Homo sapiens: one gene and its partner. The protein of the gene in region 2 interacts with the protein of the main gene of each other region in a pairwise test. Each region holds a gene or a part of one and is shown on either strand. Other genes may lie near its edges.

The links. Proteins that work in one complex are often made in the same cells at the same time.
Region 1: the proteins of MTUS2 (region 2) and ENPP7 interact in binary tests that used the Homo sapiens proteins (3 or more experiments, as listed by UniProt).

The regions. Positions count from the first base shown.
Region 1 is NC_000017.11:79,737,300-79,740,950, forward strand, and holds part of ENPP7 (ectonucleotide pyrophosphatase/phosphodiesterase family member 7 precursor), read left to right. Parts: intron 1-597; coding exon of another isoform or gene 598-616; coding exon 617-747; 3' UTR 748-763; intron 764-3,651. UniProt on the Homo sapiens protein: Choline-specific phosphodiesterase that hydrolyzes sphingomyelin releasing the ceramide and phosphocholine and therefore is involved in sphingomyelin digestion, ceramide formation, and fatty acid (FA) absorption in the gastrointestinal tract.
Region 2 is NC_000013.11:28,823,339-28,826,989, reverse strand, and holds part of MTUS2 (microtubule-associated tumor suppressor candidate 2), read right to left. Parts: intron 1-3,651. UniProt on the Homo sapiens protein: Binds microtubules. Together with MAPRE1 may target the microtubule depolymerase KIF2C to the plus-end of microtubules. May regulate the dynamics of microtubules at their growing distal tip.

The DNA.
Region 1 (3,651 bases), on a different chromosome or scaffold from region 2:
TGTACACGTGTGCACACGAGGGTGCCTGCATGCCTGTGACCAGGACACCCTTGAGCCCCAAGTGGGGCCACCTCCCCTGGCTTTGGAGAACACCAGAATCTCTCACATTCCCACAACACGTGACCTCTCACGAGCACCTCATGCATCTCGGGCGGCACGAGAGGGCGAGGGGGAGGAGTGGGCAGTCTTGCTCAAGAAGGGGCTGGAGGGAGCGAGGGTGGCCCAGGCGGGCCTGCTGTGCAGAGCCCACCTCCTGGCTGCTGGATCCCCACTCCCCACTCCCCACCACAGCAACCTGAGGGCCTCCTTTCTGGAATCTTCCTGTATCAGCCTCCCACACACACACCTCCCCACTGGAACCTGCCCCATCTTGGGGACAAAGGCCACCTGGAAACTGACAAGGTGGCGACCCCGGCGGGGGCCTGGCTGGAGAGGGGTGGGCTCTACTGAGCAGGGCTATGAAGGGCCGTGGTGGACAAAGGCCATGGGACCAAGGGGGCGGTGAAAGAGGAAGGAGGGGCTCGTGGGGACCAACAGAGGACCCCGAGTTTACTGTGGAGAGGCTGGGGTGAGGAGCCATCCCTCTCTCCCTCACAGGTCCTCTGGCTTTCCTTAGAATCTGCTCTTCCGCCTGATGGAAGGCCTACTCTCCTGCCCAAGGGAAGATCTGCTCTCCCGCCCAGCAGCAGGCCCCTCCTCGTGATGGGACTGCTGGGGACCGTGATTCTTCTGTCTGAGGTCGCATAACGCCCCATGGCTCAAGGTCAGAGACCCAGAAGGCAGAGGCGGGAGGGTGGCCCCACGCTCCCTGACCCTCCACCCTGATGTCCCAGCTACAGTCCTAGGCAACCAGAACAGAGCTGCCAGGCCCCGCCAAGCAGGTGACTCCCACTGACCTGGCTGCCCCAGAGAGGCCATCACCCCTGAGATCCCGAGGCTGACCCTTCCAGCCTCTCTGCTCTGGGCTTGGAGGAGGTCTTTCCAGAGCAGACCACCCGGACCAGTGGCCAGAATTCCCACCCTCCCCCAAAAGCCAGAACTCCCTCAGCCTCTGGCCAGAGCTGCTGCCTCCCCTCCTTCCTGCCATCTCTGTGCTCCACTGGGATAGCTCGGAAACCGTCACCTGCGGTGCATTTGGGAGGAGAGCTCTGGGGCTGTGTTCCTGGAACTCTCCAGGAGCCTCCTAGGACACGCATGAGGTGTGTTTGGTAGGAGAGCACCAGGGCTATATTCCTGGAACTCTCTGGAAGCCCACCTCTGAGGACACGCGTGGGGTGCATTTAGGAGGAGAGCTCTGGGGCTGCGTTCCTGGAACTCTCTGGAAGCCCACCTCCAAGGACACGCGTGGGGTGCATTTGGGAGGAGAGCTCCGGGGCTGCGTTCCTGGAACTCTCTGGAAGCCCACCTCCAAGGACACGCATGGGGTGCGTTTGGGAGGAGAGCTCCGGGGCTGTGTTCCTGGAACTCCCCGGGAGCCTCCGAGGACAGTGCTCCCTTGTCTGTCTGTGCAGCCACAGCCTCCTAGGCCAAGCAGAAGAAAGTCATTCATTCATCCCGAAAATATGTAACGGGAGCCAGCTCCATGCCACGCTCTGGTCTGGGCTCAGGATATGCAGCGAACAAGACAGTCCAGGACCTGTCATTTAAAGGTGCAAGAAAGCAGAGAACACAAAAGCAAATGAATCCACGCACAGAGTGCTCAGATGCTTGTGATGGCAAAGAAGAGACGGCCACAGGCAGGGACGAGGCAGGCGCGACCTTGTCATTTGCCCGGCCTGGAATGGCCTCTCTGAGAAGGTGGATTTAGGGAGAAAACCAGAATGACAGACACACCAGAAGAAGCCAGACACACCAGGCAGGGGAAAGAGCCAGGGACAGGCCCGCGGTGGGACAGGTTCGGCGTGTTTGGGATGAGACAGAAGGCCAGTGTGCCTGCAGGTTGGCACAGAGCGAGGCTCTAACAGGAGCTGACCACAGCCCCAAGGCAGGAGGTTGTGGGATGCACAGCGGGGAGCCCCAAGCTGAGGTTACACAGGGTCTGAGGTTGATGATTAAATGAGTGGCTCCCACTGCTGGGCCGGGGACAGAAACGGGAGCAGGAAGTGGCCAGTTTGGAGGTGGCTGCAGGACCCAGCCGGACATTCCAGTGGCGGGGTGGAGAAGCTGCAATGTGCACAGATTCCAAATACCTTTAAGAGGCACGACATTCGAGGTTTGTGGACAGATTATGTGGGAGGGTGAAGAAAATGCAAAAATGAAAGATGGGTCCAATGCTTGGGTCCTGAGCCACTTGCTGACATGCTAAACTGTTGGGGACAGGAGTCGGGGGGGCCGAGACTTGTTTCGGCCGTGATCAGCCTCAATGCCGGCGACGCGGCCACGTGCAGCTGTTCCTGGGCACAGGTTGTGCAGATGAGTCCACAGCCAGGGATGCAGTTTAGTCTGGCAATTTAAATTTGAGACTTGTCAACACAAGCTATGGGACTCAATGAAAGCCCCCAGCCAGAAGGAGTGGACTGAGAAGAGATGGTGACCACACCACTCACTGAGAAGGCGGGGCTGGTGAGACAGGAAAAGCCAAGAGCTTGTCATGGGTCAAGAGGGGAATGAGGCCAGGTGCGGTGGCTTCCGCCTGGAACCCCAGTACTTCCAGAGGCCGACGCAGGAGGATCGCTTGAGCCCAGGAGTTCAAGACCAGCCTTGGCAATATAGTTAGACCCCGTCTCTGTAGGAAATTTTTTTTTAATTAGCTGGGCATGGTGGTGCGTGCCTGTAATCCCAGCTACTGGCAGGGAGACTGAGGTGGGAGGATCGCTGGAGCCCGGGAGGTGGAGGCTGCAGTGAGCCTTGTTCCTGCCACTGCACTCCACCATGGGCAAGAGTGAGACCTTGTCTCTACAAAATAAATCAATGAAAGAGAAAGGAGCGGGTTTAGGGTTTAGAGAAGTAGGAATGTGGAGATGTGTGTGGTGGGGAGGACCATTCATGCCAAATGTCACATCCGGAAGGGGACCAGAGGACCCTTCAGCCCGAACCCCTCAGGCAGACGAGGATGCTGGAACCCAGAGGCGTTAGCTGACTGGTCCAAGGGCACCAAAGAGTGGCTGGTGGTGTGTAAATGCCAGTTTTAAGGTCCTGGTCCCGAGTACTTTCAGCCACAACGCCTGCCTCTCTGTGCTCAGGGGCTTGGGTCCTGAAGCAAGTCTTCCAGCACTAGGCAGGGAAGTGATAAGGTTTCCATGGCGCTAGAGTCCACAACCATTTGTTCTCCACATTAACCAAGAGAGGGACTCAGAAAAAGTCATTATTCAGACTCACACACAAGGAAATTGAAGCACAGAAAATCAAAGATCATGTGACTCTGCATATTCTCACACGGCTTTTCCCCAGAGGAGCAGCCACGGTGGCGTCCCAGCAAACCTGCTCTCCAGATCCCCCTCAAAAAGCCCTGCTGTTGGCCCTTACCCATTTCTGCGGCGTGAATACTCCCACCATGGCCCATTTCAAGCTACCAACGTGAGGTCACCGAACACAAAGTAGGGAAGAAGCCCGCAGAATCATCTTTCACAAGCAGCATCTGCTGGGCTGAGCAGGTTGCTAAGAGCTGGGGGGTCCGAAGTTTTCATCACAGCCTGGTAAAGTCCATTTGGA
Region 2 (3,651 bases):
AATGTCAAACAGCTTAGCACAAAGATAATTAATTCAGGATGATTTGAGATTACTTCTCCCGTATTTACAGAGCTAGTGTTCATATTAAATTTTTAGACTAGTACTCTGCAGTAGCAATCTGATGAAGTGTGGAAAATAAACTTCCCTATTAAGTGTTATTTGCTTCTGCTGTTTTATTATCATTTATTGTAATCCAAGGCTATATATTCCTGGCTTTCTCTATTGTACTTTTGGGGAAAAGCACTTAAAATCAGTGTATCAATATCAGCCTGTTTCTGGACAAATGTATTTGCCTTATTACAGTCTTCATAGACGCTAATGCATTATGTTGGCTTTTCATTTCTGCAAGGTGAGTCAAACTTTCTAAAGTCAGTATCAGGCCATCATCAATACTGGTTTGGCCCTAATCACACACACTGCTGGCTTATCTATAATGACTGTGTGTAAACACTCTTTTGTTTTTCTATGGGAACTGAACATACTGGTACAATGGGTCTACAGTAAACAGAGTAAAAAGACTAATAAGGAGAGGACCTCAGAGATCATATAGCCTATCCTCTCTGGGACAAGGGAAGTACATTTGGCTGAAATACAATAATCTTGTTTTTAAAATCTCTCAACAGATAAACAGTCTCGTCTTCTATCTAGTCTGATAATAAAAAATAGAAATAAAGAGACCAAAGTAATCATTTTTTATCTATTCATTCATCTAACCATGTATTTTAAATTTATTGATTTATTTACTTATTTAGCAGATGATATGACCATCTATCTGGAAAATCCAAGGAAAATAACCACAAAACAAGGTTATAATTAATAAGAGCTTGAAAAGTGCTTGGTTACATTACATTTTAGAATAGCTTTCTATATATCAATTATTGGTTATATGTAATACAACCAACATATAGAATATATACAACCAATTAGAAGAAGGCCCACTTACAAAAGCTAAAGAGGAGTATCAAATACCCAGGAATGACCTTAAGTTCCCCATTTTCCAAATACAATAGGGCACGTGAGAGAAGCTTGCAAAGTAAGAGACCACATGAAGTCATGACAGGCACAGAGAAGAGTCAGGAACACCAGACTCCTATAAATGCCACCTCCCCAATGCCAGCTGCATATGCTCACTCAAGCTGCTGTGATGCTCCCTACCCACCAGCAAACAATCCAAGGAACCTCTATATGAGAGATTTGTGTTTTGGTTGTTGAGAGTTTAAAATGGTTACAAGCTAACAGCTTAAAAAATGAAACAGCTATCCCATCCTGGTTCCATACCCCTGTCCCCATGAGTATAGAAAGGCTGTAACTAAAAACCAGCAGACAGGCCCTGGCTGCTGCTCCCCAATGGTTTCTTCACCTTCTCCATGGAGAAATTCATGACAGCCTGTTGCCAGGGGTGTGTGTGTGTGTGTTGTTCTGGTTAGCAGATGTTGAGCAGCCATCTGGGCATGCAGGAGCCTCGGTCAATGACTGAGTAATTTCCCCTCCTCAAACCCTAACCAACCCCAGTTCCCTTTAAGCTGGGGATTCTCTCTAGGCTCAGTTCAAATCAGAAAGTTGTTCTAGGTTCCTGATATTAAGACATTCCTCGAGAAAGAGCCGTGTGGTTTCCACTGTCCACATCTTTTATACATCATAGTTCCATTTGTTCCCAGGGTGACTGCAGGGAATCCAGGCTGGAGTGAGCTTGCCCCCAGCCTCTTTCCTATGACAAACCAGTGGGAGCCATCATTGAAAACATACACTCTCATTCCTTACTCCTATTCAGGTATGGTCTAGGCTGGATTCCGATGCCCTGAGAGGTCCTCAGTTCCAAGCCACCATACCACTAAGGCCCCAAGAACAACACCAGTGTTCGTGGGCAGCCTCAGGTGGCTGGAGTGGGGGATGGGGCTGCTGTCATGAGGAAAAGCTGGCCATGAGCATGAGATTCCCCCACTGCGGCCTGCAGCTGCCTCCCTGTGCTCCCCACAAATGCCAGCTGCACTCTGGTCAGGTGGCTCACTCTTCCATCTCCTTTAGGGCTCTGCTCAACATCTCCTTTCAGTGAGGCATTCCCTGACCACACTACTTGAAATAGCAATTCCCCATAACCCACTCCTGCTCCCCCATCTCTGATTTATTTTCTCCATAGCAGTATCCATACCTGATATATTAAGTACTTAACCTCATCTGATTCATTCCATTACACTGTAAGTTCCTCAAGGATGCAGTTTTTGTCTGTTTTATTTGCTGCTCTATACCTAATATGTAAAAGTGCCTGGCCTATGGAGACACTCAAACTTTTTTGTTGGATGGTGTTTAAAAAAAAAAAAAAAAGCTAGACACTGGTTAAAGGCAGTAAAGACAGATTTTACCCAGTACAACTGCAGTGAGAGAAAGAGACTTCAGTATAGAACTGAGCTCAACTCCAATTCAGGTAGAGGTGACTGGGTGTTTTAAAGGGAGAATAAGGAAGTAGGGAGGAGAAATGAGAATGTGTGGGGGCTCAAGCAGGGTCAAGGACACAGAACATTACAGCAATCAGGCAAGGGGGCTTGCCAATGAGACTAGGCCATCTGTGACTGCTAAATGGCACTTGTCAAAGTTAGGCTCCTACCCATCTACAGAGACTAGAGGACAGAGCCCTATCCTCCCTGATGATTACACTTCAAAGGAATGGCTCACAGACACTGAGGAAGACACTCCAGGTGGTAGGAGATACACATATATCTCAAAGGCACAGAGAAAGAATTACAATTGTAAGTTTTTAATAAACGATCTAACAAAATGAAAGTCAGGGGCCTATTATCATTTGTGTGGGCTAGAACAAAAGATAAATTCTTTGGGGCAGCCTTGAGCTTTTCTAGGTAGGAATGCAAGTGAGGCTGGGTGATCCCAGACACATGGCCTTAGGCTGCTAGATGCCATGTTATATGGTTTGGCTGTGTCCCCACCCAAATGTCATCATGAATTATAATTCCCATAATCCCCATGTGTCATGAGAGGGACTAGGTGGGAGGTAATTTAATCATGGGGGAACTACCCTCATGTTGTTCTCGCGACAGTAAGTTCTCATGAAATCTGCTGGTTTTATACGGTGTTTTTCCCCCTTTTGCTCATTTTTCTCTCCTGCTGCCATGTGAAGAAGGACGTGTTTGCTTCCCCTTCCACCGTGATTCTATGTTTCCTGAGGCCTCCCCAGCCATGCTGAACTATATGAGTCAATTAAACCTCTTTCCTTTATATATTACCCAGTCTTGGGTATGTCTTTATCAGCAAGGTGAGAACAGGCTAATACACCATGCTACAGTGTTTTCAAATCCGTTGGAGGGTGGGAGCACAGACAAAATTGTTTGTGTTGAAAGCTGCAGTTCTTACGGGCCAAGGTTGAGGCCCAGTTGAGAAGAGGGCTCAGGGGAGCCTGACTAAAGTTTGGTCAAAAAGAGAGTCTCTGTGGATGGGTGGGTGGATGGTAGATAGATGACTGATGGATGGGTAATTGATAGACAAGGTATACCCGTTGGTGGGAAGGGTCAAGATGATAAGATCTAAAGGCATCCAAATTCACATAGGAAGTAGAAATCATTTCAGAGAAAAGGGGAAACTCCTTGACTCTTTTCAACAACTCGTTTCAAACATGTGTGTGGTAGATATTATAAGCCTCCC